Homo sapiens: one gene and its partners. The protein of the gene in region 1 purifies or fractionates together with the protein of each later gene. This does not show direct contact. Each region holds a gene or a part of one and is shown on either strand. Other genes may lie near its edges.

The links.
Region 2: the proteins of TUBGCP4 (region 1) and NEDD1 purify together in Homo sapiens (affinity purification with mass spectrometry; 3 studies listed by BioGRID and IntAct, with this or other methods). This does not show direct contact.
Region 3: the proteins of TUBGCP4 (region 1) and MZT1 purify together in Homo sapiens (affinity purification with mass spectrometry; 3 studies listed by BioGRID and IntAct, with this or other methods). This does not show direct contact.

What each region holds. Positions count from the first base shown.
Region 1 is NC_000015.10:43,372,259-43,383,468, reverse strand, and holds part of TUBGCP4 (gamma-tubulin complex component 4), read right to left. Parts: intron 7,372-11,210; coding exon 7,243-7,371; intron 7,015-7,242; exon of another isoform or gene 6,967-7,014; coding exon 6,844-6,966; intron 6,456-6,843; coding exon 6,402-6,455; intron 5,623-6,401; coding exon 5,566-5,622; intron 3,386-5,565; coding exon 3,306-3,385; intron 167-3,305; coding exon 1-166. UniProt on the Homo sapiens protein: Component of the gamma-tubulin ring complex (gTuRC) which mediates microtubule nucleation.
Region 2 is NC_000012.12:96,938,004-96,949,213, reverse strand, and holds part of NEDD1 (protein NEDD1), read right to left. Parts: intron 8,806-11,210; coding exon 8,677-8,805; intron 6,638-8,676; coding exon 6,590-6,637; intron 5,655-6,589; coding exon 5,452-5,654; intron 4,576-5,451; coding exon 4,419-4,575; intron 3,522-4,418; coding exon 3,365-3,521; intron 1-3,364. UniProt on the Homo sapiens protein: Required for mitosis progression. Promotes the nucleation of microtubules from the spindle.
Region 3 is NC_000013.11:72,715,899-72,727,108, reverse strand, and holds part of MZT1 (mitotic-spindle organizing protein 1), read left to right. Parts: intron 1-8,011; coding exon 8,012-8,157; intron 8,158-11,210. UniProt on the Homo sapiens protein: Required for the recruitment and the assembly of the gamma-tubulin ring complex (gTuRC) at the centrosome.

The DNA of each region.
Region 1 (11,210 bases):
TCCCCCAATGCCCAGATCCTCCTCGTCCTCTTCTGGCTGGGCACTGACATTACCAGAAGATGGCCCCTGTTTGATAAAGAATTCTTCATGCTGGTCCAAGAGGAGTCCATGGAGCATCCAGGCTGAGAGCTGTTTATACATGACCCCATGACAAACGGCCAGGATTCTGGGCAGAGTAGAAAGTAAGAGGCTCAGAAGTCATGCTTTAAACTGTTACAGGATAAACAGAGGCCTGAGAATTTGATGAGTCATAACAGAAATAACCAATTAAGTTAAAAATAATTGTGCTATTTTAATTTAAATGTGGGTGAACTAACTCACTGAATTTCCATATTTGCAGCCTACACAATGAAATCTAAAATGTTCAGTATATGTGCTGATATTATTTTAGGGAAGACATTTTCTTCCCTTCTTTTATGTAATTTTCAAAACTGATGGGTCCTAAATATGTACAACTGTTTTATAGCAATAAAAAATAAAAATAATAAAAAATTTTAAAAATCGACTTAATGGAGTCTCTTTTTGGCTAACACAGTATTAAATTTGTTTTATTTTTGTTGGAATCACTTAGGGAGAGAATATTCAATACGTGAGTGCCAGGTATACATGAAAAACCATTATCTAGCAAAATTCAGAAACTAAAACAAAATGCAGAATGGTTGTTGGGGAATAGGATATTCAGATGGTCTCAAAGGATCACCCACCAGATAGCATATTAATTAAAAAGGGGAAAATGTACCTCTATAATGGAGCAGGACGTGATGAAAACACCTAAGCCAAGTGATCCAACTTCATAACATCCGTGATGGGATAAAGTTACTTTCTGTACCTTCTAATATGATGTAATGGGAAATAATATCACCTACATAGTATTCTTGCCAAAAAATGTTTAATCTGAATCTAATCATAGGGAAACAATAAATCCAGATTGTGAAACATTATACAGGACAGCTGGTCAGGACTCTTAAAATGTCAGCGTCATCCAAAACACCAAGAACAACAAAAGGCAAGGGGGACGGTTCTAAATTAAAGGAGACTAAAAAGACATGAGAACAAAATGTAGTATGTGAACACTGATCGGATCCTGGATTGCAAAAAAAGAACAGCTATGAAGGAATTCTGAGGGACAACTAGAAAAATTTGGATATAGTATTACTGAATTAATGTTAACTTTCTTGGGTGTAATATGGAATTGATGTTCTATAAGAGAATCCCTTTTTCTTTTATTTTTCTTTTTTTCTTTTTTCTTTTTTTTTTGAGACAGGGTCTCACTCTGTTGCCCAGGCTGGAGTGCTGTAGCACGATCATGGCTCACTGCAGTTTCGACCTCCTGGACTCAAGCCACCCTCCCACCTCAGCCTCCTAAGTAGCTGGGCCCACAGGCGCACACAGCATGCCTACTTTTTTTGTATTTGTAGAGACGGGGTCTCACTATGTTGCCTGGGCTGGTCTCCTAGGCTCAAGCTATCCACCCACCTTGGCCTCTCAAAGTGCTAGGAATACAGGTGTGTGCCACCATGCCCAGCCAAGAATGCCTTTTTTCTAAAGTGATACAAGCTGAAGTATTTAAGTGTTAGGGTATCTGTGACTACTTTCAAATGACTCTGCAAAAAAATTTGTGCATTTCACATATACGTATAGAAGGAGAAAAAGAGAAATCAAACGTGGCAAATGTTAACAAATGGTGAAACTAAAGGATACACTAGCGTTTGGTTGGTTTTTTTTGTTTTTTGTTTTGAGACAGGGTCTCATTCTGTCATCCAGGCTGGATTACAGTGGCGAGATCTCAGCTCACTGCAGCATCAACCTCCTGGGCTAAAGCAATCCTTCTGCCTCAGCTTCCCGTAGCTGGGACTACAGGCAGGCACCACACCTGGCTAATTTTTTTATTTTTGGTACAGACAGGGTCTCGCTATGTTGCCCAGGCTGGTCTCGAACTCCTGGGCTCAAGCGATCCCTCTGCCTCAGCCTTCCAAAGTGCTGGGATTACAAGCGTGAGCCACCGAGCCCAGCCTACAAGTGTTTTATTATACGTTTCTTTCAACTTTTTTGTAGGTTTAAAATTTTTCAAAATAAAAGGTTGGGAGAAAAAGAAATTACAAGAACTTGACTGTGTTATTTAACTGAATGGAATCTCTCTTTAAAAAGATCAAATGTGAAGCTATTTACATTTATGCATTTCTGAGTATGTGGTCTGTAAAGTTTGGTCCCTGCAAACACAGAACAAACATGTATATATAGTATCATCTACATTAGATTTTATATTCTATACACAAAAGTATAATAGAGAATTAAGTCCCTAAGGAATGTTCTGGAGGATTTACTCATGCAGTGGTTAGAGTGGAGATTAAGAGTTGTGAGTGGCCGGGTGCGGTGGCTCACACCTGTAATCTCAACACTTTGGGAGGCCAAGATGTGAATATCGGTTGAGCCTAGGAGTTCGAGACCAGCCTGGGCAACATAGCAAAGCCTTCTCTCTACAAAAAATTAAAATAAAATAAGAAAAAAAGAACAAAACAGAGTTGTGAGTGGCCTCAGGGATCATCTATTATAATTTTTCAATGAATGTCACAGTTTTTTTAAAATAAGGAAAATGGATAAATGGAAAGCTCAAACAGGCAGTCTTTGATTATACTCTACATGTTTTCATATTGTTGTAATCACAAGATAAATACAATTTTGTATCATTTGTCAGTACATATTTATATAAAATAGTTTACATGTTATAGTACCTACACTTTTAGTGGCTTTATAGTCTATCAAGTGAATATATCATCATTTAAATTTTTTTCTACTGTTGGTAATTTTCTAATTTCCTGATATAGTAGACAACATTGCAATGAACACGTTTGTGCATATAGTTATTTTCTTCTATTAAATAGTTTTGTTAGGATAAAATTCCCAAGAGTGGCATTATGGGATTATAAAGCATAAACATTTTTAAGGACCTTCAATTTGAAAATACCAGCTACTCAAATACACATGTTTAGACACAGCAAGCAACATCTGGCACATGTAATGGAATTCCTGCAAGGATAACAGGATCTAAACATTTAAAAAGATTGCCTCAAGGTCATCCAGGCACCTAAATCCTGGCTTTGTCACTCAACACTCTATAGCCCTTTTTGCAAGGCCTGAGCCATAATAAAGGTTACATGGGCTCCTCTGCTCATGGAGCTTTTTCTATCCTGGTTATAACCTTCCCAAGAGGGAAACCTGAAATGACCTGAAAATAAAACATGTGAGAAGTCAAATAATTTGACCACCCACCTCCACCACCAATTCCCAGTTAAGCCATGACTTACTTTTCCAGTGCACTTCGAACAGGAGGCAACCCCCCACAGCTGTGTTTGTAGACTGTTTCCAGGATTTGACAACCATGAATCTGTGGAAAATACGGCCTTGTCAAACTGGATTCCATTCTAAGAGTCCATGCAAGACACATTCTTATTCCATATTCAACCAAGAGGGCACAATCTAGGAGAGACTGGGGATAAACTTTCTCCTAAGATTTACACATAGTGGTTCTCAAAGAGGGACCTCTCTCCCATCAGCAGCATGACCTGGAGACTCATCAGACATGCAAACTCTTGGTTAGAACCCAGCACTCAGTGTTTCCACAAGCCCTCCAGGTGATTCTAATGCACAGTAAAGTGTGAGAACCACTGCACTTAAAGCAACCAGAATCATTTAGAGTTGGAACACCAAAGCCAAGGAAAGCTTTTTATTTCAAGTTAAGGCCCAATTCAGTCTACTTCTAAGGTATATACTTTTTCAAAAATCCTCTGCCTCTATGTTCTTCAGACTTTTTTTTTTTTTTTTTTTTTTGAGACGGAGTCTTGCTCTGTCGCCCACGCTGGAGTGCAGTGGTGCAATCTTGGCTCACTACAAGCTCTGCCTCCTGGGTTCACACCATTCTCCTGCCTCAGCCTCCCGAGTAGTGCGACACAGGCACCCGCCACCACGCCTGGCTAATTTTTTTTGTATTTTTAGTAGAGACAGGGTTTCACTGTGTTAGCCAGGATGGACTCAATCTCCTGACCTCGTGGTCCGCCCGCCTCGGCCTCCCGAAGTGCTGGGATTACAGGCGTGAGCCACCATGCCCGGTCCCCAGACTTTTATTTTTACCACTTTGAGGTATAATTTACAATGAAATTCACCCATTTTAAGCATACTAATAAACAATTTTTAGTAAATTTCAAACACTGGGCAACCATTACCACAATCCAGTTTTATAACATTTCCACTACTCCAAAAAGCGCCTTTGTGCCTGTCTGCAATCAATCTCCATTCTCAACCCAAACCTAGAATTTTGACCACCTGATTTTAAAAACTCTGAAGAGCCTTGGTACACTAGTTTCTCTACCACTATTCTGGCAGGGAGGAAGATTCAGCCATCTGCAATCCCCCTATTTTCCACTCTCCTTCCTATAGCCAGCGGAAGTTGAAGGCCAACTGAGACGTGCAGCTAGGCCTGGCTCCCTTATGCTGTCCTCATTAACTCTATTTGCCTAGAATGTCTCCTTTTATTTTGGGAGATAGTTTAATCTAGTGGTTAAGAGCACACTCTTTGGAGCCAGATAGAGCTGGGATATAAACCCATTTACTACTATCTGTGTGACACTGGGCACACCCCTTAACCAACTTAGCCCTTTAGTGGATTGTGTGTGATAATGTATTTAAAGCACTTAGCACAGTGCCTAGTACACAGCCAGTGACAGTAAAAGCTGGATGTTGTTATTTGATGAGGACAATCAGCTTTGAAGGGCCAATGAGCACCCACCACTGGCTTTGCTGGCACAGCATGAACATAGCAGAGCACTGTTTCTACACTTACACAGTTAAAAATGATGCAGCAATGTGGCAGATTAACTGGTTTACTAGTTACATTAATGAAAATGAACACCCCTAATAAGCTAAGGCACAAATAAAGAGCTTAAAAAAAATGACGACTTGAGCTAAAGATGTTTAATCCATTTGTCCACTTGGTCCAATTGTGGACCAATTCAATAGGACAGCAGATTCTTCTAATATGAAATCTCAAAGCATTTATTCCTCAGACTTATTAACTCTGCCCAGAAAGACATTCTCCTAACTTCTCAATACACCTGATAAAAACTTGTGATAAGAATAGGCATATTTATTAAACATCTGGCTTTCACTCACTGATCTCAAAATTCTCAGAAAACTGCCAGCACACTAACCATAAACCTATTACCTTCTTCCTAAGAATTAACTTTCTGCTTCACACCCAACAGTTCTAAAACCTTACTGCAGGTTCCTCTCACCTGCAAACATCCACAGCACTTTTTTTCTTACCCCAACAACATTCTTGGGAACATCTATGAACATTTCCTCTACCTTCTGGACCAGGAGGTGTTTAAAGGCAGAGTCATACTTTTGCATTCCTGACACTTAACATGATAACCAAGCAGATATTGTTAAATGAATGAATAAATAAAAACTACTAAAAACTAGGGTCTTCGAAAAATAATGTAAAGCAAAATTAATTAGTAATATTCCCTCAGTGCTTAGCAAAGCAAAAGGAATAAGGAAAGTTCTCACCTTTTGACTTTTAATTTGTTCTACTACAACCATCACAGAGGGAAAAAGAAGCTGGAACTGCAAAGTAGAGAATAATTAGAAGGGTATGTAATCAAATGTAAGGGAAAAAAAATCAACTTGGGAAATGCTTTTGTTTCTAAATAGTTCAACTTAAGATAAAATGGCAATACCACAGAACAGTCAAGATCCAGCATCCTAAGGCAATTTGATGTGGAGGTTCGCTGCAGATAGGAAGAGGATGGCAGAGAGAGGCAGTTTCTTTTTTTTCTTTTTTCTTTTTTTTTTTTTTTTTGAGACAGGGTCTCACTCTGTCACCCAGGCTGGAGTATAGTGGTAGGATCCCAGCTCACTGCAACCTCCACCCCTGGATTCAGAACGTTAGCCTCCCAAGTAGCTGGGACTACAGGTGCACGCCACCACAACCGACTAATTTTTGTATGTTTAGTAGAGACAGGGTTTCACCATTTTGGCCAGGCTGGTCTCCAACACCTGACCTCAAGTGATCCAACCACCTCGGCCTCCCAAAGTGCTGGGATTAGAGGTGTGTACCACCATGCCCAGTCGGGAAGCAGTTTCTATTTCTGAGGCTGGCATACTTGTTAATACTGATGTCCATATAGAGCAGTAACATTAGCGTTAATATCAGACATTAAGTTTTAACTATATTTGGAAATCTTTAAACAGTTTTGATCTAGTAAAACATACAAAATGCACAAAATATAAAATGTTAGGCTCTGAATCCAGAAGAAAAAAAGTTCTCAAAAACAGTACCATAAATTAGATTATTCTAACACTATCAACAGATTGCAAGGCATTTGGTTATTTGGGCAGCATACCTGGTCTAGGAAGTAGTTGACATGTGATATGGAGAGATGGGGATCACCCAGGAACTGCAATAAAAAACTTTGTGATTAGAGCTCCACACAAAATATCTCAAATCTATTTGATCTATGAAAATGAGAAGAGAATCTCATGATGGGCTTAAGTGTTAATTTTAGGCTATCGAGAACTGATAATTTAATCAGGTTATTAATCCTGATTTTCGGGCCATAAAGAAACCAAGCCAGGGCTCTTATAAACTCACTAAAGAGTCTTTGCCATGATCTGTAAGCCACTCTGATCACAGGTTGGGCAATCACTGAGAGAACACTGTACCTTCCAGCCATGCAGGCAACTGCTCACTCTTAACTACCTGATCTTATCAAAGGGCATTTCAGATTCAAGAACATGCCCTAATCTACTGTCCCAGAGGTGTTTCCTATATCTCCTCCTTCTTACCTCTTGTTCCAAATCAAGCAGTGCTTGGCGATAAGGCTGCAAAACAGAATCCAGCCCTGTGCAGAAGGCCCGCAGGTAGATTCCATGTAACCCACCTTGGCCCTGTTGAGATGGATGGTGATCCTGAAATCAAACAAACAGAAGCCAACTTCTCAGCTCAGGCCCTGAAACCTGAGAAAGACATTATCAGGCTTGTTTCTTTTAAAAGTTATACAAACAAACCAATTAGAGGCCTTGCCTTCACTTGAATATTTCTAGTGATGAGAAATCCATAACTTATTTCACATGAATTACCGATAAATTCACTGAAAGCTTGACATAGCTCCTGCCCTCTAGAGGTGAAAGCTTGACATAGCTCCTGCCCTCTAGAGGTGTACACCCACAGAGAACAGGACCCACCTGCTGTTGCACATGGCCCGTGTACTGTTCAATGAACTCAGTGAAGCGAATATAGTCTGTGCCGAGCCGGCAGAGTCGATTCAGGACACTGGTCTCACTGGGGTGGAGGAAAGGGAAGTCCTGCGATACCTGCAGGAAGAGGAACACTGCCGAAAACACCGCCAGTCGCTGCCCCAACTTTCAGGTGCTTCAAACGCTTCATACTACACATTTATCGTTTTCTTTCTCAAGATGTCCACTTAAAGGTGTTAAGTTCTGGATAACAATGTATTTCCAAAGCACTTCAAAGGGGTTCCCTATCCCTGACCCAATTATTTGCTTCTTAAAATAGGTAACACATGCTAAATAATTTAAACAATATAAAATGGTGTACATTAAAAATAAGTCAACCACCCCAGAAGCAGCCGCTATTACCTGCTTCTTAAGCAATCTTCTAGGGATGGTCTCTAAGGATATGGGGGTTTTGACCTGGTTGCAACAAAGTCTCTTTAGCAATATTGCTCAAATGGGGGTCTGCAGACTCCATGGGTTTCTCAGACATATTCTTAGGATTTACAAATTCCCTATAGAAGTTTTCATTGTTTTCATTCCAGTAAAAATCTAAAATTAAGCATACCTATTATCTGTAAATGCACCTTATAACTGGCCATATATATTTAGTGTCCATATTTACATTTGTATTTTTAATTTAAATGAAAGCCAAATGATAGCCTAATATGCTATATACAAAGGTTTCACAGCAGTTCAGGTAGAAAAAAGTAGTGGGAAAATATATTCCTTCAACCAACTTTTTAAAAATACTGTGGTAAAATACGTATAATAAAATCTACCATTTTAGCTATTTTAAGTATATAGTTCAGTGGTATGAAGAACATTCACACTGTTGTGCAACCAGCACCACCATCCATCTCCAGAACTTTTTTGTTTGCCCCAAATGAAACTCCGTATCCAGCCCCTGCCAAACACCACTCTACTGCCTCTGACTTTGACTACTCTAGCTACCTCATATAAGTGGAATCACTCAGGTCGGGTACAATTGCTCACGCCTGTAATCCCAGCATTTCGGGAGGCCGAGGCAGGTGGATCACCTGAGGTCAGGAGTTCAAGACCAGCCTGGCCAACATGATGAAACCCTGTCTCTACTAAAAATACGAAAATTAGCCAGGCGTGGTGGTGGGCGCCTGTAATGCCAGCTACTTGGGAGGCTGAGGCATGAGAACTGCTTAAACCCGGGAGGCGGCGGTTGCAGCGAGCTGAGATTGCACCACTGCCCTCCAGCCTGGGCAACAGAGCGAGACTCTGTCTCAAAAAAAGTGGAATCATTATTTGTCCTTTTGTGACTGGCTTATTTCAGCTCATCCATGTTGTAGCACATGCCAGAATTTCCTTCCTTTTTAAGGCTGAACAATATTCCCTTGTGTGTATATACCACATCTCAATTACCTATTCGTCCCTGCACTGACACTTGCTTCCACCTCTCAGCGATTGTGAATAATGCTTGGTGAACACGGGTGTACAAATATCTGTTGGGTTCCTGCTTTCACTTCTTTTGGGATATACCCTGAAGTAGAACTGCTAGATTGTATGGGAATTTTATATTTAATTTTTTTTTTTAGAGACAAGGTTTCACTCTGTCACCCAGACTGGAATACAGTGGTGGGTTCATAGCTCACTGTAACCTTGAACCCCTAGGTTCAACCAATTCTCCCACCTCAGCCACCAGAGTAGCTAGGACTACAGGCATGTGTCACCATGCCCAGCTAATTAAAAATTTTTTTTTTGTAGAGATGGAGTCTTGCTCTGTTGCGCAGGCTAGCCTCAAACTCCTGGCATTAACTGATCCTCCAGCCTCACCCTCCCAAAGTGCTGAGATCACAAGTGTCAGCCGCTGTGCCTGGCCTTTATTTAATTTTTTGAAGAACTGCCATACCATTTTCCACAATGGCTGTACCATTTTACATTTCCATTACTATATCCCAGGTACTGTGCTAATACTTTGAGATAAAAGAGTGAACAAAATCAGATACAATTACTGCTCCAAAGGAACTTAGCATATTATATGGATGGATATATAATATGGATTATATGTGGATGCCATTTTATATGACAGTAAATGTGGTAACAAATAGGCGAAGAAGAATTTTTCTGTTACCAAGTCCATAGAAAATTGATTAGGAATCCAATTAATGTAGATTTTAATGACACAATGCTAATCACATCTTCAAGTTAGTAACTTAAGAGGTTGCACAACACGGTGCTTAAGAACCTGGTCTCTTGCCGGGCGCAGTGGCTCACGCCTGTAATCCCAGCACTTTGGGAGGCCGAGGTGGGCGGATCACGAGGTCAGGAGATCGAGACCATCCTGGCTAACACGGTGAAACCCCATCTTTACTAAAAAAACTACAAAAAAATTAGCCGGGTGTGGCGGCAGGCGCCTGTAGTCCCAGCTGCTCGGGAGGCTGAGGCAGGAGAATGGCGTGAACCCAGGAGGTGGAGCTTGCAGTGAGCCGAGATTGCACCACTGCACTCCAGCCTGGGCGACAGAGCGAGACTCCATCTCGGAAAAAAAAAAAAAAAAAAAGAACCTGGTCTCTGGAGCCCAACTGCCTGGGTTTGAATCCCTGAGTTGCCTCTTACTTGCTTGAAAGCTTAGGCAAGTTACTATACCTGTCTGTGCCTGTTTTCATACCTATAAACTGAAGAAAATAATTGTGAGGATTAAATAAGTTAATACATGTGTAAAGCACATATCCCAACCACATAGCTAGTGCTCAATACACATAAGCAATTTTATATTATTAACAAGACAGCTCTACCAGTTATCAAGTGATACTACTATTAAAATTGGCATTTGAGCGTTTCTTGTTGGCAGAGTTTTCGAAAAGTTCAATATCTAATTATTCTGAAACAGCAAATAATAACTCGAAGTTACTGATACCATTCTATATAACACAGTTATAGGAACAGGCTGAGAAATCCTGCATTAGAATAATGGTCATTTGAACTTATTGATTTGGTAGTTTTGTTTACTTTTAATTTATAAAAATATTTGATTTTATAGTTGTTTAAGAGTATTATGCTTGAGTTTATACCTAGCTTATGTATATACATATTCAATATAATAAAATAATTTTCATTAACACTTGGCACTCATGACAACTTTTCCCTTTACTCAAATGTAAAAGACACTGCTCTGCAGAAATTATGTAATATTTGCCATCTTTGTCTTCTTTTCTTCCATCAATACCTAAACACCTGCTATGTGGCAGAAACTGTGCTAGGTGCTCTGGGTAGATGAATGAAGAAGACCACTGGTCTTCGCTCCCAGGGGCAATCTATGCGGGAGAAAGGCTAAAAACAGGTAACAACAATACATTATGAATTGTGACAAATCCTACAAGGGAAATAAACAAGTTGATGGAGAATAATGGCATCAGGGGAGGATGCTTAAAGATGTGCTCAGAGAAAGTTTTTCTGACAAAGTGACTTTAAAGCTGAGACCTTGAGGATGAAATGGTAGAAAATACATGATTGAGAATTTTTCATAAGAAAGAAAGGAAGGGAAAAGATGAATTACTTGTGGTTGTCTCCCCCACCCCCTCCCTAGCTATCTTTCCTGTACTGTGTTATCTCTTCTTATTTTGGACCATCAGGCACCCACATACTTCCTAAATACTGTCCTCCTATATGCCTGGCATTGTACTAAGATCTATGGAGAAAAGTGAAACATCGAATTAGTCTTCAAAGACCTACAGGTGAAAGATAACAATTCAAACTCCACCACACAAATCTTCACCTGTTTTTTTCAAAAATTCACCTAAACTCCCAAACTCCAAATACATGTTCATAAATAATAACGAAAGGAAACTGTTTGATTTATAGGTTTTATAGACTAAGAATGTACTTTTTCTGCTCTTCCACAGTCTCCTAAGAATCGGCATGTCTTGGTGATCAGACGGACCTAGATT
Region 2 (11,210 bases), on another chromosome or scaffold:
TGCAAACGAAAGACTACTAGGTAAGCTCTTCATTTACCTCTGTTTTTCCTTCTAGAGTATGTGCTGATTCCACAGTGTGGAGAAGAAACCGAGCTGAAGCAGTGGCCTGGAGGTTGAGATAGTCTCGCTGGGTGGGGGAGTATTAAGAGTTTGGGCCTACCAAGGTAGCCAAGGCTGTAAGAGCCAAGGTCTTGAAGAGAGGAGGCCTGCAGAAAACTAAGCCTGAAACTGTGGAATTTCCCCTCAAGACATCTGTTGACTTCTAAGCAATGCTCCCCCTGGGTTAGATGGCAGGAAACCAACCAAAAAACAAGTAACTAAAGAGCAGAGAAAGTATTCTGGAAGTCTTGTGATGCTGGCAAAATAGAGGCTGAAGTTTGGGACCCACCAAGGTAAAAAAGACAGTGAATACTCCAGACATTCAGCTGATGTCCTAGAAAAGACTACACACTAGGAATAAAGGCAAACTGGAAACAAACTAGTGCTAAGAAAACCTGAACCTAGTAACCAAAGGATCAAAGGGATCTGCTTGCCAAAAGAAACTTAAATCTTCTTAATAGACAACAGAAACAGATGCACAGATTTCCACTTAGGATGTATTAGGTTGGTGCAAAAGTATAATTTCTCAACTCTAATAACGAAAACAAACCTGATAACCTATAAAATCATATTATTTTAAATTCAACCGAGAGCTGAGAATGGAAAGAAATCTAAATGAACTAAAATCCAGAAAATGAGGAGTTCCTCTTAGGAGAAAAGAGACCCATGACTAGGAGAAAAGAGACCCATCTTCATGCCCTTGACAGAGTAAAAAGAACTAGCTGAAATTTTAATAAGATTTTTAAAAGCCAAGTAAACACTGCTTGATAGTTTAGAATTCCAAGGGGTCCCAGCCACAAGGAGAGTCTCAATTTACTCACCAACTTTTTCCCACAAGCCTTCATTCAGCGCTCATGTAAAAAAAGTAGGGACAAGTGTAACAGGAGGGCTGAGGGAGACTCCCTAAGATACAGATGCACAGAGCCTGGTGAAACCTTAGGGCAGCAGAGAAGAACTGAGAGTAACCCCTCTAAGGCACTCCAGGCTCTCATGGAGAAGATGGCAGCCACGGGAGGATGGCTGAGAAAGAGGTCCTCAATACCCTCTCTGTCCTGCCAATGATAGGTGTAGATGAACACCTAGTCTGATGAACACCTAGGCAAATGGCAAAACAAGTGAATTTATGGAAATCCTCTGAGCCACTCTGGGTCTTCACTGCGTCCCAGGCAGAGGCTGCCTATGGTCAAAGGGCAGAAGAGCTGAGAGAAGTCCCTACCCACCACTCCTAGGTGCAGACATGCAGCACAGGGCAGCAAAACCAAGAGGCACTGACTGTACGTCTTCACCAAACGTGCTGCAGCAGCTCTGCAGGGCTGAAAGTGGGACAGACACACTTCTCCTGAGGCACAGAAAGCCAGGAACAGGTTAGATAGTGAAAAACAAGCTCCAGCCACCCCGAAAGCTGGCAGCAGGGCAGAAATGCACAGCGATTTCAGAGTTGCTCCAGCACTCAGATCCCTGGGTCTGCTGAAGGAAAGGCCCTGAGCCCACTGTCCTCAAATCATCTGAAGCCAGTGGTGAACTGACACCCAAATGCTTGTTGAATAAATGGGTAATAAATAGACAGCACCCATTACTCCTGTGCTTAAAAACTCTGATGGCTCTCCATTACCTGTGTGTTAAGACCTTCACAACTGTCCCTCAGGCCTGGTCTCTTACCACGGTGCCTTCTCTCTGCAAACATTCCTAGAATGTATGATCATGTCTCTGCTCAAGCTGTTCCCACACACATCAGTATAAAATAAAATCTCTTCAGTGTACCTTTCTAAATCTGCCCCCACAGAAGAACTGCTCCCTTTCTGTGATTTCAACATCACTTTGCTCACACTGTATTATAGTCAGCTGTATCCAGACAGTTCTACTATTATGCCATAAATATTTATGCACTCCTGAAAAAAACGTATATTCTTTAACACTGTGTATTAAAAATAACAGAACTTAGGGAAAAAGGATTAGGGCAAAGCACTCAAAAACCTATGCAACTTTGTAACCAGAGCACAACAAAAACAATTAAATCCTAATAAAAATACTAACATAGTTAAAAAGACATAGTAAAAATCTAATAGATAATTATTGAATAATACCCTTACTGTGAAGAAGTGATGGTCACTTAATGGAAGAGGATAGAAGGATTGCGGCTATCAAGTTACAGAGGCAAGAGCAAAATGCCCAAAGATGGGAAATAATCACAAAATAAGTACTTCTAACAGACCACACAGCCAAGCCAAGAGGAAGTGAATAAAAAGAGATGGATGCTGACGGGGTTTGCTGCATTCAGCTGTGTTCAGGTGTACTTTATTTTGGCTGCTATTACACGAACAAACAAAATTTCCTCATCATATTGTCAACAGTGTTCTATTCTACTGATCCCAAATGAATTAATTCACATTAAGAGAAACACACATGGCAGAACACACTGCACCTAGCCCAACTACATCACAAGGCCTTTGTGGCAGATCATTTGATGTATCCTTAGTATCTGGTACATATACTAGGTAGGGTAAATGCCAAAATTACAATTTTTCTTTAAAAAGTATTTTTCGACATTTAAAAATATATTTTAAAAGTATTTTAAAACATTAAAAGGAAGCATGCACCAACAAAAACTGCACATTTTCTCCAACATTCTTGCTTACGGTAATCCAAATCTGAGCTACAACATTAACTATAGGTTAGAAAGGAAAAAAGGCACCAATGATTTTAATAATTGAAGATAGCTTCCAAAAATATTGAGATGATAAAAGAAAGCAGCATTGTAGAACACATTCTTAGAATGTTCACAATTCGAAGGATGAGACAGACAAGGATAAGTCTGAGAAAGAATTTTTTTTAGATTAAGTATTACATTCTGATGCATTCTATTGGAAAACATTCAGAATTGTGCTTTAAAGTATCTTTTTCTACTACATTATTGCACACAGCATACCTAATAGATCTATGAACATACTGCAGGTTAAGAACCCAATTTAAGCTTACCAGAACTTGTCCACATTTTAATAATAAAAAAAGTTCACAATGGCAGTCTACCTGCTAGACTGCCCTGCTGAGTTACCTAATAATTGCCCTAGGTAAATGTGCCTTTTCCTGGCTCATAATCAATAAATGCAGTACGAAAAGATCAACAAAACTCATTATGTTTTCTATGGCTTTAGGATTACCAGAACCTAGACAATAGTAACCAACAACATTATCTATAGTTCTGGTTTTACATCTAAAAAAAAAACAAGTAAGGTCTAGATAGAAGGAGTAGTTTCTCAATTACTACCTAAAGTCATCCAACGTTTCCTGTATCATGTTCTGAATAAAACGAATTTGAATGGAAGTCAATGGTGCATTTTGCCGGTTATTTCCAATGCTGTCGGCTATTTTTTCTGAGAGTGAACTGGCAACTCCAGCAGTGACAGAAGATGCTATCTTTGGATCTAAAATAAAGAATGAAGAAAATATTAATAGTCAACTTGGACTGAGAGACATCAAACATTTCTAAATAAGATTTGGCATGTGCAAACTTGAAAAACTGGCAAAGAAGAGTGTTCCTGTGACATTTAGAAAAATTCACTGTCTGGAATACAAATCTTAGAAACTTTCTATAACATTATTTCTAATAGTCATTTATCTATATATATAAACTGCCAGCTGTCTAATGTAATACCACATGACAGAGGGATTAATCTTGAAGAATCTATGAACCATTTCCTCTTATAAAAGATGAATGTGACAAGCTGCACCATAAACTAGATAAACCAAGACTATTAAAAACAAACCGAAGGAAAATAGGAGTAAAGTACTGCTACAGGAAAAGCCTTAGAGTTTAAGCTAATGCAATATATATCCACAGAAAACTTCAAGCAAAATATAGATATTTATATGAGAGTTGATTGTAAACAAAGAGTTGCTTTGTGTAGATAACTCTTAGAGTTAAACCAAATATTCCTTTAAATGTGATGAAGTTTGTATGGGTCTGCAGCACAAACTCTAAGGATAAGACTTTAATATGAAAGAGAAAAAGACATTTTCAGGTAGTTAACCAACCCTTTTCAAAGGGTCCTACATAATAATTCTATCTCTACCATATTAAAGACACATATTACACTGAAAATCTAATTCACACCAAAAGATCAAATCAACGTACCTGAATTTAACGATTCATATCCATTTCATTGTCTTTAGTAACACTCACACAACAGAAGTGTCCACAAACTTTAAACTCTTTGAACATTTTTAGTCTATGATTACTCTATTTCTCCTTTACAAGTTAAATAATGGGGATGATTTTTCAATCAAACACTTTCAAACATCAGGAAGTTTCATGTACTTACTTGGAGTTGAGGATCCATTGATTGGGGGTTCACATATCAACTGGGCTTCAATTTCATTCTCTGGCTTTTCAAATTTCTCAGAATTTCTTGTTTGGTTAGATGATGGAGAGGTATTTAGATTTCCACTTTCAGCACCAGATGTGACCAACTTTGCTAACTTTATATTTAAAATAAATAATGACTTTAATATACAATTTTTTTACTCATATTACCCATATAATTTTTGCCTACTTCTCTCTTTTGTCCCAGTATGTAGGTTAATAGAAATGAAGGAAAATAGGAAGAGATATAGAAGAAGAAAAAGAAAAAGAGAACTGGAGGCAAAATAAAGTAACACTTACTAATCAAAAACAATCTCAACAATAACATGAGGAAAAGCTCATTTACTAAGCACCTGCTGTTAAGTATCATTTAAAATAGAGATAACTGGCAAAACAAAAACAAAAACACCATGCATGTGGTAACCAGTCAATAATATTTGCAAAATAAATCAAAAGATGTTTTTGTACTTCTTACATGGTATCTTTTCAATATCATTCTAAACAATAAATACGAAAATACAGACATATTGTATACCCAACTGGCTTGGCCTTCCTGGTAATTTTTGATCATTTTGAACCCTTACATAAAAAATTAAATTCTGTATTATATATATATATTTTAGCAGAAAGTAACAATGATAAATTCCATTCTCAGCACCATCAGTTTGCTCTAATGATTTAACCACCAACTTGATGTTGTATACTGCAATGAAATACACTTTAAAAGGATTCAGGGATAAACTGTTCTTGCACACTTTATCAAGATATATCAAGTATCTCATCTTAGAAAAATACTGCAACTTTCCATCTGCTGTAACCTTCAACATATCCAAAGCGAGATTTCAAAGTATTCTGTAGTTATTAAAATCTGACATCAAGACTTATGAATAAGTGCATAGCAATGCTAATAATTAGGATACATGCACTGGCAGCCACCCACTTTCTACTGATAAACACATACAGTGAGTTCAGTATCATTTTCAGGCAAATACCTGTTTGAAGGAGTCTTTAGATTCCTGTTTTCCCATATATATTTTCTTAGACTCAGCTGTTAGATCACGGTTTTCATTTTCCTCTTTCCCTGGAGATCCCATAAAAACATTAAGAGGACTAGAATGCAATACTGAAGTACTTGAAGTTACTGGATTTTTTCTTGGAGGAAACACTGAGTTCAACTGCGGTAGAAAGTCAAAGCCTGGAAAAGGGAAAAACTGCATGTGCATATGGTGTCCTCCAATTTTGGACATTGAAGAAAAGCATTTAACATGATAGGCAGATTAACATGGAAGAAGATATGGATCTGCATTCTGAAGACTGGTTTGTTTCTCAGATACACCCCGCAATTGATGTGTATTTTTGGGCAAAAGTCTTAAACTTTCTGTGACTATTTCCCGATCTACAAATGTAAATGATGATATCCATCTCCCAGAGTGGTAAGGCTTCAAAGATATTATTTGTGAAAATACTTTGAAAACAGCAAAACACAATGTTTTAGTCAGTATTAGTTCTTGATAACTGAAAATTGTTAATTTGGTATATATCTGTGGTATGTATCTTGGAAGGCAATTTCTGAGATGGCTTCTAATGACCCCTGCCTTTGGCGTCGCTATCCTTGGGTAATCTCCTCCCTTTGAACGTGGCTTGGACCTAGTAACTTGCTTCTAACAAAAGTAATATGAAAAAGTAGTGAGATGTCACTACCAAGATTAAGGTTATTAACATAATCTTAAGAGAGGGCTTCCATTTTGGATGCCCTCTCGAATTCTCTTGTTCACCGGCTCTGAGGTAAACCAGCTGCCATGTTGTTGGCTGCCCCATATATAAAGAAGCTCATTGGCATGGAACTGATATCTCCAGCCAACAGCCATAGGAATGAGCTTGGAAACAGTTCCCTGCCCAGTTGAGTCTTAAGTTGAATGAAGCTCTGGTTGACATCCTGATTGAAGCAGGAAGATAGACTTGAAGGCAAAGGTACTCAGCCAAGTCATGCTCAGTTCTTAATACACAGAAATTATGAGACGATAAATGTTTATTTTTTTAAGCCTCAAAGTGTTGGAGAGATTTGTTACACAGCATAGATAATACAATTCACTTTTCATTTTCACGAAAATACTTCTAAGTAGTTCTTACCATCTCCTTTGCCTATGGACTCATCACTTCCCTTGTTAACTACAGCATCTATAACAAATTAGAAAATCAAATTTTAAAACTAGTGAAAAAGAAACCATATCAATTTAGGCTTCTTATTCATTCCCCAAAGAGTTCAGAGACTAACAATCTTAAAAAGCTAAATATGAGTGATGTTAAAGGTAGGAGAATACTGATTTAAATTTCTCTTTTACATTATTTTAGCTTCATTCACACTTTAGCAGCAAATATGAACAGATAATTCTATAGTACAGTCATTTAATGAGGCAGCAAGGTATAGTGTAACAAGCCCTGGTGTAGGGGGTAGGTTATGGAGAGCTATAATCCAGTTCTGCCTATACCACTTAATAGCTTTGTGACCTTGGACAAGTCTCAGATGCAATTAAGTTTCAGTTTCTGCATCTATAAAATGGGGATAATGTCCAGATAAGCTCACAAAATTGCTTTGAGGATCAATTGAAATAATACAAAAATATTTTGCAAAGCAGAACAAAGTTTTATTAGTGTTTATTTCCATGGTAGAATATGTATAAGATTATTTTAATCCTGTAATATTCATTTGCCAGTCCATAACAAAAATTGTAAAATTCAAATTTAACAGGTGAATTAAAAATGAGCCAAAGTCATTAACGAATTTACTAGAAATTCAAATGGCCAATAAACACACAACTATATCAGGAGAAATATCATCTATGTGCATGTGTGTATATGTTCCCAGTAATTGCACAGCATGTACATGCACACTTTTAGAAGTTATTAGCTTCCTTATCAATACTTTGGAACCATAATGAATCTGGAGGGCGTATGACTCAAATGCTAGTAACATTTTTAAACATAGCAAAAGTAATTAAAGAAAAAAGTAATTTATTCATTTGTCTTAAAAACTATTAAAGAGAATTTAATTTATAACTCAAACACTTCCAAAAAGCCCCTTTGTACATTCTTCAATGCAAAAGTTCCTCCAGAGGAGTCTCACTGGCCAAAACTCGCAATTCAGCACTAATCCCAGAAACCTTTCTCAACTCCAGCACTAGTCACTTTTCTCTCCACCTACATCCGTCCCTCTGTTTACCCTTTACAATGTAGTTTGATGTAGTTCGACTTCTCTTCATCCTGAAAGAAAAGAATCCTTCCTCTTTCAGTTTGACTTAGCAATTTAAATAGAAATTTGCAGGCCAGGGTAAGGCAGAAGATACTCAATAATTCTGTACCACCACGTATGTATTTATTCCTTCTGACTATAAAATTGTAGAACATTTGGAAAAGAGACAATTTTAAAGTAAAAAATGAAATTGTATAAGATAATGAGTGGATGAAACAACTTCGAGATCCTGCTGTTGACATGGTACACTTATAATAATAAATACACAAATCTTTGTGGGCTTCTCTGAGTATTTTCTGAGATAAATTTGTAGAAATGTAAATACAAGGCCAAAAAGTATGAATATATTAACTCTGTCAAATTACCCTCTAGAAATGTATCCATGTTATTAATATTGCTGTTAGCAATGAGGTAACTCCATTCCACTAAGAAAAACATTATGGATGTTAGTACCAAAAAGACACACCTAAACAATGTACTTAGTTCAGACACTATGAAGAATAACAAATAATGCTTCTATTTATCAAGCTGGCAAATTTGCTTTTTATTATGCCAACTTTTTTATGGGGTGGTGGGAGGTGTACACCTATACACACACAATTTTTTAAATTAGGAAGACTTTTTTGCATACCAAAACATCTAAAATTTTAGGAACATTAATTTAGAAGTAGATACAAGGGACAGATTGCCTATGAAGGTAAAAACTTCCTTCAAGAAACTTTTGTGGAAATTAAAATGCTAACTTGAGAGCTATTTGCATAATTCCCATGTGAAAATTACCAGCATATATTTTACAATGATAACATTTGAAATATCAGGGCAAAGAAAAAGATACCACCCCAGGGATGGAGAAAATTAGCAAACTGATCCGTGAATAGAGTTGGACTGAAGCTATTATTCACATCTTTTAGCCAGAATAAAAATATTAACTACCAGCAAGAGAACAGGATCCTCTGAACAGACTTACCATCTCTGATAGGTGAGAACATGTCACCTAAACTACTTTTCCCAGTATCATCAAAGCTGGAGAAATCCTGATTTTTTCCACTGTCTGTTTCCTTAGATAAAGTGTCTGTGTTTATGCTTCGAGGCAAACCTTATAGGAATTAGATATAAAAATCAATGTTATTACATCTAAATAAATTTTATCATAAGCTAGGTTGTAAAAATTAATGTATCACTCATATTGTTGGTAATATTACAACTATGAGCATAAGGAGAATAAAACAGAATATGACAAGAGCTAAAGTTAATCAGGATTTTCATGGAACAATAAAACAGAATATGACAAGAGCTAAAGTTAACCAGGATTTTCATGGAACAAAAGGTTCCTCAAAAGAAAACAGCTTATTTGTTCATACAGTAATACCTTATTTTAGCCATTTTGTTGGAATTTTTCTAAAATAATTTATATACTTTGCTGCTCTCTTAAAGTACACTGAACACAACTTACTTTTGCTATTGACTGACTCATGATCATCTACAAATGTGATTTTTTTTTAGTCTGTAAGGCATATAGAGCGATGCCTAACATACAGCAGGATTCAATTAATGTTACTTTTCTTCCCTGACTTGCAGTGAAGGGGTTTTCTGTCTTTTCTTTCACTAACAGTGGGAGCTTAACATTGCCCTCAGCATTACAGATCTCAAATGACTTCACTAACCTCCATAGTTTCAAAGAGGAAGCAAACCAGAACACCAAACTCATAAAGAATAGTAAGGTAGACAACAATAAAGAGACGGCAGCAGTTTATTTTTTCTGGCAGTGTATAAACACATGGCTTTAGAGTAGGGACCTTTTAAGAGGAGCTCAGCAGGCTCAGAAGCTTCTGTTTCATTACTGGAGTAACGACAGTTTTAGAGGTTCAAAAATTTTGATTAAAGTCTGCCATCAGGATTGGTAGCACATTACTGTATTACATTTTAAAAAGTGCTTTATTTGGCATCTCAGGCCCAAATGAAAAACTGAAAAGTCTGAGATGAAAACAAAGAACAGCCTGCATATCCAAAAATGCCCAAGACTGGCGAATAAAATAAACTTTTCTAATAACACCTGCTATAAAGTTAAAATATTACCAAATCATTTGTACTATTGTTGAAGAGTGTCTATAGCAAGAGTTCAGTTGTTACAAAGAAGAAATTTCCTCTCCTTTTTTCTAGGTCCTTAACATGTTTGAATGCATAACTCAGCCTCTGAAACTTTAGGAAACAGAAGTTTGGTATCATTTGAAAACAGCGCTAAAGTCTTATTCTTTTCTTCTTAAATGGTGATTTCCTTCTAAAACTAAGTACCAATAACAAGTTTAGAGAAGTTCTTTGAAATAACTGAATCAGGACAACTTCAATAGAAGCAACAGAATTTTTTTCTGAACTTTAATTTTATACAAAGCTTAAAATAATAATAGTGATGATCATGATGACCACAATGATAGTATCAACACCATAGTGTACTGAGTGCCTACCATGTGCCAGGTACTTCCAATACATTTTATCTGATTTTCACAATAACCCTAACAGTTAAATGTCATCTTAAATGTGTACAGGAAAAAAATGAGACCCAGAAAGGTTAAGAGAATTGCCTAAAAGCATCCTGGCCGGAAGTGACAGATCTGAGACTGAGTCTACTATTCTCAATGTTTCAGAGGCAAAGAAAAATGTGTGTGTGTGTGAGAGAGAGAGAGAGAATGAGAGACAGAGAGAGGAAGAGAAAGAGAATGATGAAGCAAATGTGGCAAAATTTATAAAGTGCATCTGCCAAAGGGTAATGCTCAGGAGTTATCTGTACTATTCTTAAAACTTTTCTGTAAGATGACAATCATTTCAAAATACAATTAATACACAAACATTGTTAATTTTGTGGGGGCAGAGCACTCACTTTGCCAGAAATGTTGGGAATCTACCAAGAGTTATCGTTAATCCATGACCCTGAAAGATCCAAGCCTTTGATTTGCAAATTAATGCTGTCTTTGTTAAACAAGAGCCTTCTTACTATAAAACTAAATGAATAATGGAGAGACTTCAGAGAGTTTACAGTGAATGAGAGAATCTTTATTTTGTTTAATTTTTGAAAATTTTGAAAAAAGATAATTTTCATAATATAGTTAATTCAACATGTTGGCAGACATTACTCAAAGTTATATTTCAAAAATAATTTCTTCCTTAAGTAGATATCAGTTGTCTTTGTCTCCAGGAGTTCCTAAATAAGAACTTAATTATTTTCCTAATATATAATGGCTCTTATATAAGGATGATACAGATATTCACAGGAAATTTATAGTGAATATACTTACTTTAAAATACTACTCCACACTATCAAGATCAACAAATTAAAGTTTTGCTTCTACTTGGAAATAGCAAAATCATGCTAAAAAAAAACACCAATAAATATTTTTGCCCAAGTATTTATCCTGAAAAATTTAAAAGACATGGATATATGTATTTCTACTAAGCACAATATTTCAGAAACATACTAGTATACCATGTAGACTTTCTAAAGTATTT
Region 3 (11,210 bases), on another chromosome or scaffold:
GGTTGGGATCCCGGCGGGGACAGGGGCCAGGTGTTTGGTCACCGCTATGCCTCCTGTTCTTCGCACTTAAGTAGGCACCTTTAATATCCGGCGAATGAACAAGTTCCCCTTTGGTCATAATTATCCTAGTTTCCTCTTGAAGCGGGTGACACCAGTGCCCAAGTGCTATGGTGTCGCCTGTTTTCGGCCCCGGAGGCACGTGTGTGTGAAGCCTACACAAGTGTTGCAGAACACGAAATTTGTGTCTTGCGGTTACCCTCTGTCTACCCTCTAATGTCGGTTCTGCCACTTTATGCCCCTGTGGTGAGCTTGGACTAGATACTTAAACATCATTGAGCCTGTTTAGTTTTTTTTTTTTTTTTTTCTGTAAAATAAAACCCTACCTCCAGGAGTTGTGAATATTTAAATAAGACAACCATGTAAAAACATATCAAAGATGATCAATTATTTTTATATTATTTCAGATGGCCTCTCTCTTGTAGTCTTCTTTCTTTGTCTCCTTTTTACTCACATCCACCTGTATTATGAGTGTTTGATCGATGTTGTTATTTGCAGTGGGCCTAGACGTTTTCCAGGGTCTACTCACGTCAGCTTCCGTCTCTGTTAAAAGATAACCCTATGAAATTCTCACTGCTGTATCTCTCTCTCCTTCACCGTAGGCTCTTTTTTTCTTTTTTGAGACACAGTCTTGCTGTAGTTGCCCAGGGTGGAGTGCAATGGCGCAACCTCGGCTCACTGCAACCTCCGCCTCCCGGGTTCAGGCGATTCTCCTGCCTCAGCCTCTGGAGTAGCTGGGATTACAGGTGCCCGCCAGAACACCCGGCTAATTTTTTGTATTTTTAGTAGAGACGGAGTTTCCCCATGTTGGCCAGGTTGGTCTCGAACTCCTGACTTCAGGTGATCCACATGCCTCGGCCTCCCAAAATGCTAGGATTACAGGCGTGAGCCACCATGCCCGGCCTCATTTTCTTATGTAGCACTTGCAGAGGGGCTGCTGGCTTTTTCTGCACTGGTCCTGGTTTTCTTTTCAAAGAATTACACTTTTAGAGCCTTTGCATCTAATTTTTCACTTGTTCAGTATCTACCTTGCTGTTTTTCTGAGAATGTTACTCTTAATATTCAGCTTATTTTTCTATCCTTTTCGATGTATCAACACTTAATAGTTTTATTTTGTAAGTGGATTTATGTATGAATATATATATGTGTGTGTATATAAATATAAATTTACTGTCTTGTATATTTCCTTGGAAAAAGGTAGAGTATAAGACCTCACTTCTAGCCTATTTTCTTAGGTTAGCTGTACTTAGGTTCCTTATGTATATGGCCACAGGATCCCATTTGAACAGAAAACTCACATTTTCTCTGGTGGAATCACTGATGTACAATTGAGAACTGATGGTTTGTGTTGGCTGCATCATCAAGATCTCTTCTGAGAAAACTTGGTGTGAAATGAAGATTATAAAGAGAGTAAGAACACAAAAAAGTGAAGTAAAACAAAAAATGAAGGAGAGGGGATGTGGTGTTACACAGTATTTAAATCAACCCGTGAGATCAAAAATAAAATTTTCAAAACTTTTTGAATACCATTTCTCCCCTCAATGGTAGCATTTGTGAACCTCCCTTTAAGTCATGTGAATTGCAGAACTCTTGGCTACATTTGCATTTTGATCATGAAATGAAAGGATTTTGTTAAAGACATGGAAGGAAGCAGGCTAACTTTCTATTAATAAATTATCTGTGCACCTCACTCTGAAAAGAACTATCTCTGCCAATTTAGAATAAGGTCTGCATGAGATCTCTGCTTTCATCCTTATATCCCTAAAATTCTACACGCTTAAAATAGTCGTGCCTTTTCAACAACACCCCCCTCGCAACCCACTGTGTATGGTTGCCTCTTTTGCTTTTCAACTTTTTGGTATGTTAGGTACTCTCTATTGATTGCTTTTTATACCTTAATTTTTATTTTCCTCTAAAATCGTCCTGTGCATCTGAATTTTAATTTTGATAATTATTCCTTATGAGAGGCTTTATCATAGCACTATTTTTTTTTTTTTTTTGAGACCGAGTCTGGCTGGAGTGCAGTGGCGCGACCTTGGCTCACTGCAACCTCCGCCTCCCAGGTTGAAGCTGGGGATGGGAACCAATTCTCCTGCCTTGGCCTCTGGAGTAACTAGGATTATAGGCGCCCGCCACCACGCCCAGCTAATTTTTGTATTTTTAGTAGAGACAGGGTTTCACCATGTTGGCCAGTCTGGTCTGGAACTCCTGACCTCAGGTGATCCACCCGCCTCAGCCTCCCAAAGTGCTGGGATTATAGGCGTGAGCCACTGTGCCCGGCCTGTAGCACCACTTTACATATATATATGTGTATATATATATATATATATATGTATATATATATATATATTTAGTAGTAAGTACGGGTGCCTGTAATCCCAGCTACTTGGGAGGCTGAGGCAGGAGAATCGCTTGAACCTGGGAGGCGAAGGTTGTCGTGAGCTGAGATTGCGCCACTGCACTGCAGACTGGGTGACAGAGCTAGACTCCATCTCAAAAAAAAAAAAAAAAACACGTTATAGAGAAAGGAGTTAAGAGAATCTATGGTATATAGATTCCATTTGACTAGCACTGCAAGGCAGTACCAGCGAAACAGTCCATGCTACCACCATCAATCCAGTTGCACATTTGAGAAAGAAATCTAGAAGTCAGTCTTGCTTTCTCACCTCCTCTGCCTCCTGTTCTTCACTAAGCCCTTTCAATTCTTGACTCATTTCAGGTTGGCTAAATATCTCCTGTTCATCCTACCCACCAGTCTTTTATCAAAATTGTGATATAACTGGACTTTTTAAAGATTCATTTGATACTCAGCCAAAAAGTCCTTAAAATGCAAGTTTGATTTTTTTATGTTCCTATTTTATATCATCCAGTAGCTTTCCACAGTTCTAAGATCTTCACTAGGACTTACCTCATATTTTATACCCATTCACCCCGTTAATTACATTGCCTTCACAATAGCAGTTCAGGTCTGAATTTACCAAGTTCCCTCTAGTGTAGGGACCATCACACAAGCTGTTTTCTTTGCTCTCAACCATCACCCTTCCTCCTGCCTCTGTATTAGTCTGGTTGATTTCTACTCACTTTTGATGTCTAAGTGTAATTGTCACTTCTTCAGACAAGTCTTTGCTAAACACTGTGTCCTTCCAAACTTGGTAAGATGCCCTTGTAATTTGTTTCAGAAGTATTCCACTCTTTATTTATTTTACTTATATCTGGAATCAGTTATTACTTTAATATCTATCTCTCCTCCTGGACTAATATCTGTGAGGAGTGGGACCATATATACCTTGTTCATAACTGTATTTGCAGCAGTAGCATAATAGGCACAAAATACATATAGTTAGAGGTTGATTATCTCTCATCCAAAAACCTTGGGACCATGTTTTGGATTTCAGATTTTTTTTTTTGTAATATTTTCACATACATAATGAGATATCTTGGGGATGGGACCCAAGTCCAAACACAGAATTCTTGTATGTTTTATATATACCTTATACACATAGCCTGAAGGTAATTTTGGTTTTTTCCCTCAGGGATGCTGAATGAACTGTGTATTGTGCACCTGCATTTTGACTTTGATCCATTATATGAGGTGTGGAATTTTCCACTACGGTGTTATGTCAGTACTTAATAAGTTTTGGATTTTGCGGCATTTCACATTTCAGATTTTGGAATTAGGAGTGTTCAACCTGTACTGATCATATGGTAGGCACTAAAGAAATAGTTTTTGATTACAGGCGATTTGTGAAAATAGGAAGTAAAAATAGGTGTCCATTTGAAAAGAAGGCTTAAAGAAGAAACCACAAATGAGATGGACTAAGAAAACAGCATTGAGTTATATGAAGGGAGGATAAAAGGCAGAGGAGAAAAGCAAGAACAAAGGCATGAAGTCAGGAATAAGCATAGCCTTTATACGTGGGGGGGTCTACCATGAAGAGAACAAACTGGAAACTGGAGAGAGAAGGGAGAGAATCAACTGAAAAACTGTTAGAAGCATCATAGAATTCATCAAGGTGACTGGTGATTAAAAAGTTTAATATGTAGTGTTCCAGTATACTGATGGTAACCACTTAGAATGTACAAGGGCTAAGTAGAATCCATTTGTGAAGACAGTCAAAAATAAAGTGAAGATTCAATATGGTAGATTGAGCACTTGCTGAAACTCTAAGCATATAAAAAAATAGGAAATAGTAAGAAAATATAATTATCAGGATAGACCTGTTCAAAAGCAAGAAGGGAAGTCTCCATTGATTAGGAAGAGAGAGGTTTCCCCCCAAAAGAAAGGAGCAGATGGGAACCACAGCAGGGGATTGTCGGGAATAGAATCTGACAAAGCATGCTACCCTGCCTCACTGAAGTTGGGAGTCAGAAATGTGCCATTTGTCACAGCCAGAGATTGAGAAGCACCATCCATGTGTTTTTTGGATCTGGACCAAAAATACTACAAGGCCTGATCTAGAGGCCTAAAGCTAGGGTACGGCTTCCTATCTTAGAATGGGCCACCAGTCCAGGACACCTAAAATAAATCTATGGAAGATGAGTTTTCAGCCAAGAATGACAAAGCACCTAAGGTAGATGAAAAACATGAGCAACTAACATGGAAAAGGAAAAAGAGGGAAAGTGGTAGTAACAGGGAACTCTTTTTTATTGAGCCCTACCGTATGCCAAGCACCATTCCAAAGGACTGCAAGGCAGTGTCAGCAAAACAAATGGATACCATTCTAAGTGTATCCTTTAATTCTCACACTAATCCTTTAAAACAGGTACTCTTATTATCCTCACTTTCGAGAATGGTGAAATAAGGCACAGAGAGAGTAACTTGCCTACTAAATACTACAGCTAGAATTTGAACACAGGTAGTCTGGCTCTAGAGATCACACTCCTAACCACTGTCTTTTGCTGCTTGCTTATACTCCAAGAAATAGAGATAATAGAGCAATCTCAAATACAGTTTAAGAATATAGCCTTAAATAGACGAAGGCAGGAACAACAGCTGTGAAATTTGTCACTATAAATAAGCATTTAGTTATAAAACAAGTGTTTATGGTGAGAAATTAGAAATTAGAAATCTTGAAAGCTACTGAAATAAATTTGAAATAAATTCAGCAGATAATATGAATAACAGGCTGGATACAGCTGAAGAGCAAAGTATCAGTAAATTGGAATATCAAAACTGAAGAAATGAAAATGGGAAGAGCTGTCATCTTCCAGCCAAGATGGAGTAACAGAGATTAGATTTATGCTTCTACTTGAAACAACCAAGAAAACTCAGGTAAAGCATACAGAACAATGGTTTTCAAGACACTGGACATCAGGCATCAGAGTACAGTGATCCCTTAGAGACAGGAAACAAGCAAAGTGATTTCTTGGGTTGCCCCAGCTCACTGCCTTCAGAGAGTTCCAGGCCTCAGTATAGCAGGGAGAACCCAGTGGACACACTGAAGTGAGTAGGAGGAGTTTAGAAGACCTGGGAGACCAAGGCAGGTAGAGTTTGAATAACAGTACCTGAGAGGGGAGAACTGCACAGAAAGAATGCTGGAGATCTGTAGAAGTGTCCCCCTTAAGTATTCAGAGCATTGATTAGCAGATGTGTGAGGAAAGTACTCAGAAAGCTGGGAGGGAACCATCTAGAAGGATTAGAGTGAACCGTGCACCGTGCTTACACAGGGCTGAGGATAGTGCCTGTAACTACCAGCCAGAATGGAAATCTTTGTAATTCATAAGACATTGGATACAGTACTCAGAATTCTTACCTCAATCATAAGGGGAATAATTAGCCCTATCCTAAACAGGGCTCTGGTCCTGCCTAACAGATCTAAGAAGTAATATCCGAAAGGATCAAACCATTTCCAGATAACGGTATCTCATTATAAAGCTCAAGAATTAGAAATACAAAACTATCCGGTACCTAAGTAAAATTCTAAGTACATGGCATCCAATCAAAGATTACCAGATATGCAAGGCAGAACAGTATGACCCATGATGTGAAAAATTCAGTCAATTGTAACGAACACCCCCCCGATCACACAGATGTTAGAATTAGCAGACAAGGGCATCAGAACTATACTCCATATCTCCAAAAAGTTTAGTAGAGGCATGAAAGACATTTTTTTTTTTAAGACTCAAATTGAACTGCTATTTTTGTTTGTTTGTTTTTTCTTTTGAGACAGAGTTTTGCTCTTGTTGCCCAGGCTGGAGTGCAATGGCGCAATCTCGGCTCACCGCAACCTTTACTTCCCGGGTTCAAGCGATTCTCCTGCCTCAGTCTTCCAAGTAGCTGGGATTACAGGCATGCGCCACCTTGCCTGGCTAATTTTGTATTTTTAGTAGAGACGGGGTTTCTCCATGTTGGTCAGGCTGGTCTCGAACTCCCGACCTCAGGTGATCTGTCCACCTTGCTCTCCCAAAGTGTTGGGATTACAGGCGTGAGCCACTGCGCCCGGCTCAAATTGAACTTCTAGGGATGAAAGTGAATATCTGATATGGAAGAAATGGGAGGGACCTATCTCATGAACATGATAAATACTATAAGAATTTTCAGAAAGACTTAGACTTAAATTAATGGGTGACTAAATATTGATAACTTGTCCATTCTTCCCAAAATAATAATGTAGTTTTTATACAGTTAATCAGAATCCAGTTGGAATTTGTTTTTAGAATTGATGAAAAATGTTCAGTTCATCCGAAGAATAAAATGGCTTATATAAATGAAAGATGACAACGGAATGTTTACCCTACTACATGCAATATAAAGTTAGAAATTAAATGGTTGCCCTTACAAAAGATAGACATGTAACAAATTTGTAAGTATATGGGAATTTACTATGAATAAAGGTGGCATCTCAACTGGGTGGGGAAAACTTAGGTCATTCAATAAATTTTACTGGGGCAACTGGCTCATTTCTGGGAGGAAAAGTTAGATCCTATTTTCCACCCAAACTCTAGGGAGATAAATACTTATGGGGGGTTTTGGGAAATAAACTTCAAAGTGCTGGAAGAGAATACTGGTGGATATAATCTTTTCATGGGGAATAATTTTCTAAGCATAATGCCAAGGGGAAATGATATAGGAAACAATAGATAATATGTTGACAGTTGACTTAAAATATTCTAAATACTCTCTGGGAAGCAATCTTAAAACAAAATTCAGTGGAACCGGTGTACTTACAACCTGTAATGGAAGGGATTCTGAAAATCACTTTGGAAACCAAGTTTCTCTGTTTGTGCTTCTCATGTTAAAGACAATGAGTTCTATCAACTACAATAAAATGCAGTACTATACAAATGAAGTTTAAAAAATATAAGGTTTCATTTTTATTATTAGATTCAACAGACATGATTACGCTGTCAAATTGTTATAAAAGTTTCTAAACACTTTTAAAGCCTTAAATATGTACATTACCTTTTTTTGACTATTGTATGTCAATTCAGCAAATTAAATATGTATATTACTGACTGAGCAGTTCTACTTCTAGAAATTTATCCTAATGAAATAAAATTTAGTATGTACAGATTCTTACCAATATTATTTTAATGAGAGAAACATGAGAGCAGCCTAACTTTTAAAGTAACAGAGTAGTTAAGTATAGTGTTTCCATAAAATGGAATAATATGCGACTAGTTAAACTGCATTTTAAAAGAATACTAAAAAATAAGCAAGTGTTCAGAATTATCCTAAGTATGGTGGATACATGTTAGATATTAAACAAGTGCTAGAATATATAGCAAGATGTAAAAGGCAGTTATGTGAAGGGAAGGTGTAAGTTTATATTTATATTTAAGTTTCTAAAACTAAGTAAAGGCAAGAAAGTATTACATGCAGATTTCCAAAACCTGGGATGCTATGCTAATTCCTTGGTATTGTGCAGTGATATATAAATTAATGAAAGTACTATATGCATATTTTTAAATGCTGTAAGCCTTAAGTTTTTTTTTTTTTTGTATCTTTTTTCAGTTCTGCTTGAGATTTCAAGAATTTTGAATACTGGCTTAGATATGGAAACTCTGTCTATTTGTGTACGGCTTTGTGAACAAGGAATTAACCCAGAAGCTTTATCATCGGTTATTAAGGAGCTTCGCAAGGCTACTGAAGCACTGAAGGTTGGAGATTCCTATTAGTTCATTCTAAATAAAGATGCTTTTATTTAGAAAAATGATTAATGATGAAGTTATGGGAAACATCCTGGTTAAACAAGGTTAAACTAACATGCAACACCACTAGAAGACCAGGAGCTCAATAGTGTATGTTCATATCATAAAAATTACTACTACTAGGCCGGGCGCAGTGGCTCACACCTGTAATCCCAGCACTTTGGGAGGCTGAGTTGGGCGGATCATGAGGTCAGGAGATCGAAACCATCCTGGCTAACACAGTAAAGCCCCATTCTCTACTAAAAATACAAAAAAATTAGCCAGGCGTGGTGGTGGGCACCTGTAGTCCCAGCTACTTGGGAGGCTGAGGCAGGAGAATGGCGTGAACCCAGGAGGCGCGGAGCTTGCAGTGAGCCAAGTTGGCGACACTGCACTCCAGACTGGGTGACAGAGTGAGACTCCGTCTAAAAAAAAAAAAAAGAAAAATTACTACTACCATGGACCATGTTATGTTTTCCCAGAAGTCTGTTTTTAGAATTGTGCTATTTGGTGAGTAAAATTGTGCCTGCTCCAGAAGAGGCATGTTGAGGTCCTAACCCCTGGTCCCAATGAATATGACCTTATTTAGAAATAATGCCTTTGCAGATATAATCAAATTAAGATGAGGTCATCCTGGATTAGGGTAGATCCTAACCCAATAATTGGTGGCCTTAGAAGAGAAATTTGGACACAAATAGCCAAGGAAAGTTAAGGATTTTCTGTGGCCATAAGAAGCTAGAAAGAGGCAAGGAAGGATATTCCCCTAGAGCTGTCAGAGAGCATGACCCAGCTAACGCCTTGGTTAAATATGTATAGTAGGTATGGATTTCTGGCCTTCAAACTGTAAATAGATTTTTGTTGTTTTAACCCACCTAATATGTGGTTACTTTATTATGGCAGTCCCAGAAATCTGATACAGATTTTGGTACTGGGAAGTGGGGTGTTGCTGTAACAAATACTTAAAAGTGAGGATGTGGCTTTGGAATTGGGTATTGGATAGAGACTGGAAAGTTTTAAGGTGCTTGATAGAAAAAGACTAGATTTCCTTGAAGAGGAACTGTTAGTAGAACTGTGAATGTTGAGGCAATTCTGGTGAGGGCTCAGAAAGAAGAGAAAAGAACTGTAGAGAAAGCTTCAGAGTTTTTTCGAGACTAACATTAGGATCAGAATGTTGCTAGAAATGTAAATGTTAAAAGCACTTTTAGTGAAGACCCAGATGGAAATGGGGAACATTTATTGGACACTAAAAGAAAGGTGGTCTTTGTTAGAAAGTGACAGAATGGGCCAGGCACAGTGGCTTAATGCCTGTAATCCCAACACTATGGGACACCAAGGTGGGTGGATCACCTGATGTCAGGAGTTCAAAACCAGCCTGACCAACATAATGAAACTCCATCTCTACTAAAAATACAAAATTAGCCAGGCGTGGTGGCACATGCCTGTAATCCCAGCTACTTGGGTGGCTGAGGCAGGAGAATTGCTTGAACCCAGGAGGCAGAGGTTGCAGTGAGCCAAGATTGCGATATTGCACTCCAGCCTGGGCAACAGGAGCGAAACTCCATCTAAAAAAAAAAAAAAAAAAAAGAAAGTGACAGATTGTGGCTGAATTGTGTTCTATTGTTGGAAGGAAAATAGAATATGTAAGCAATGAACTTGGATATTTCATTGAGGAAATTTCCAAGCAAATTGTGGAAGGTGTAGCCTGATTTCTTTTTGCTGCTTAATAATGTGACACAAATGAGCAATCGAGTAAGGACCTGCTAAGAGAAAAGGAACTAGCATCTGAGAATTTAGAAAATTCTCAGCCTGTCTGAATAACATGTTCTGGAGACAGGGCTAAGAGTGTGGCTACACTTTTGTGAAGACATTAGGTATGTGATAGAGCCAGTCAACCATCTCAACACAAACACTGCCAGCTTGGACAGGATGAAGTGAAAGAAGGCTATCAGATTAGTGGGATTGTTTAGACAGGAAACTGGCTGATAGAGCTGCTCAGCTGAGGGCCCATGTGTTATCCTTCAAGAAAAGGAAAAAGTGACTCCAAGAGCGCCTCAGAGACCATGGGACTGCTGCTGCCACCAGGTTCCCAGAGGGCCACCTTTTTTCCAATTCAAATTAACCACGTTTTAATTGCTCAGATTGGCAACTAAAAACATGTCCTATTCTGTCTTCCACAGACTTTCTGATTTAAAAGCTTGTGATTTTATTTCCCTTTTTATATAGCACTAACTCACTTTGAATACTGAAACTTTAAGTTAGTTCATCTTAAAACTTGTCCAAAACATGGGCTCATAGAGACGGTCAATGGGGGGAAAAACAAACAAACAAATAAAACCTTCTGATACCTGATACAAAGTGACTTCTCTTTTTTCTTACCTTTAAGAAATCAACTATTTAAAACATGCAATTTACATATCTTTCAGATTATTTTCCAATGAGTTCTTATTCTTTAGGTTTGTTTTTGTGCTTTTTAAAATCTCTTGATTATTAAATCTAACTAAAAAGGGTAAACCACATTTGTAGAGCTAAAATGTATCATAAAGAGAATATCCATGCAACCATCACTGCCAGCACCAGATAATCCCCCTTCTGCCCTCTCCCCAGTCACTAACCCCTCTCTCTTGCTCTCCTCTCCAGTAACTACTATCCTCACTTTTATGGTAGACTCTGTATTAGTCCATTCTTGAATTGATATAAAGAAATACCTGCCGGGCATGATAGCTTAAGCCAGTAATCCCAGTACTTTGGGAGGCTGAGGTGGGCAGAGCACTTGAAGTCAGGAGTTCAAGACCAGCCTGGCCAACATAGTGAAACCCATCTCTACTAAAAATAAAAAAATTAGCCAGGCATTATGGCAGGCACTGTAATCCCAGCTGCTCGGGAGGCTGAGGCAAGAGAATCACTTGAACCCAAGAGGCGGAGGTGGCAGTGAGCCAAGATTCACACCACTGTACTCTAGCCTGGGCAACAGAGGAAGACTTCCTCTTAAAAAAAAACAAAAACAAAAAAACCGGAGACCAGAT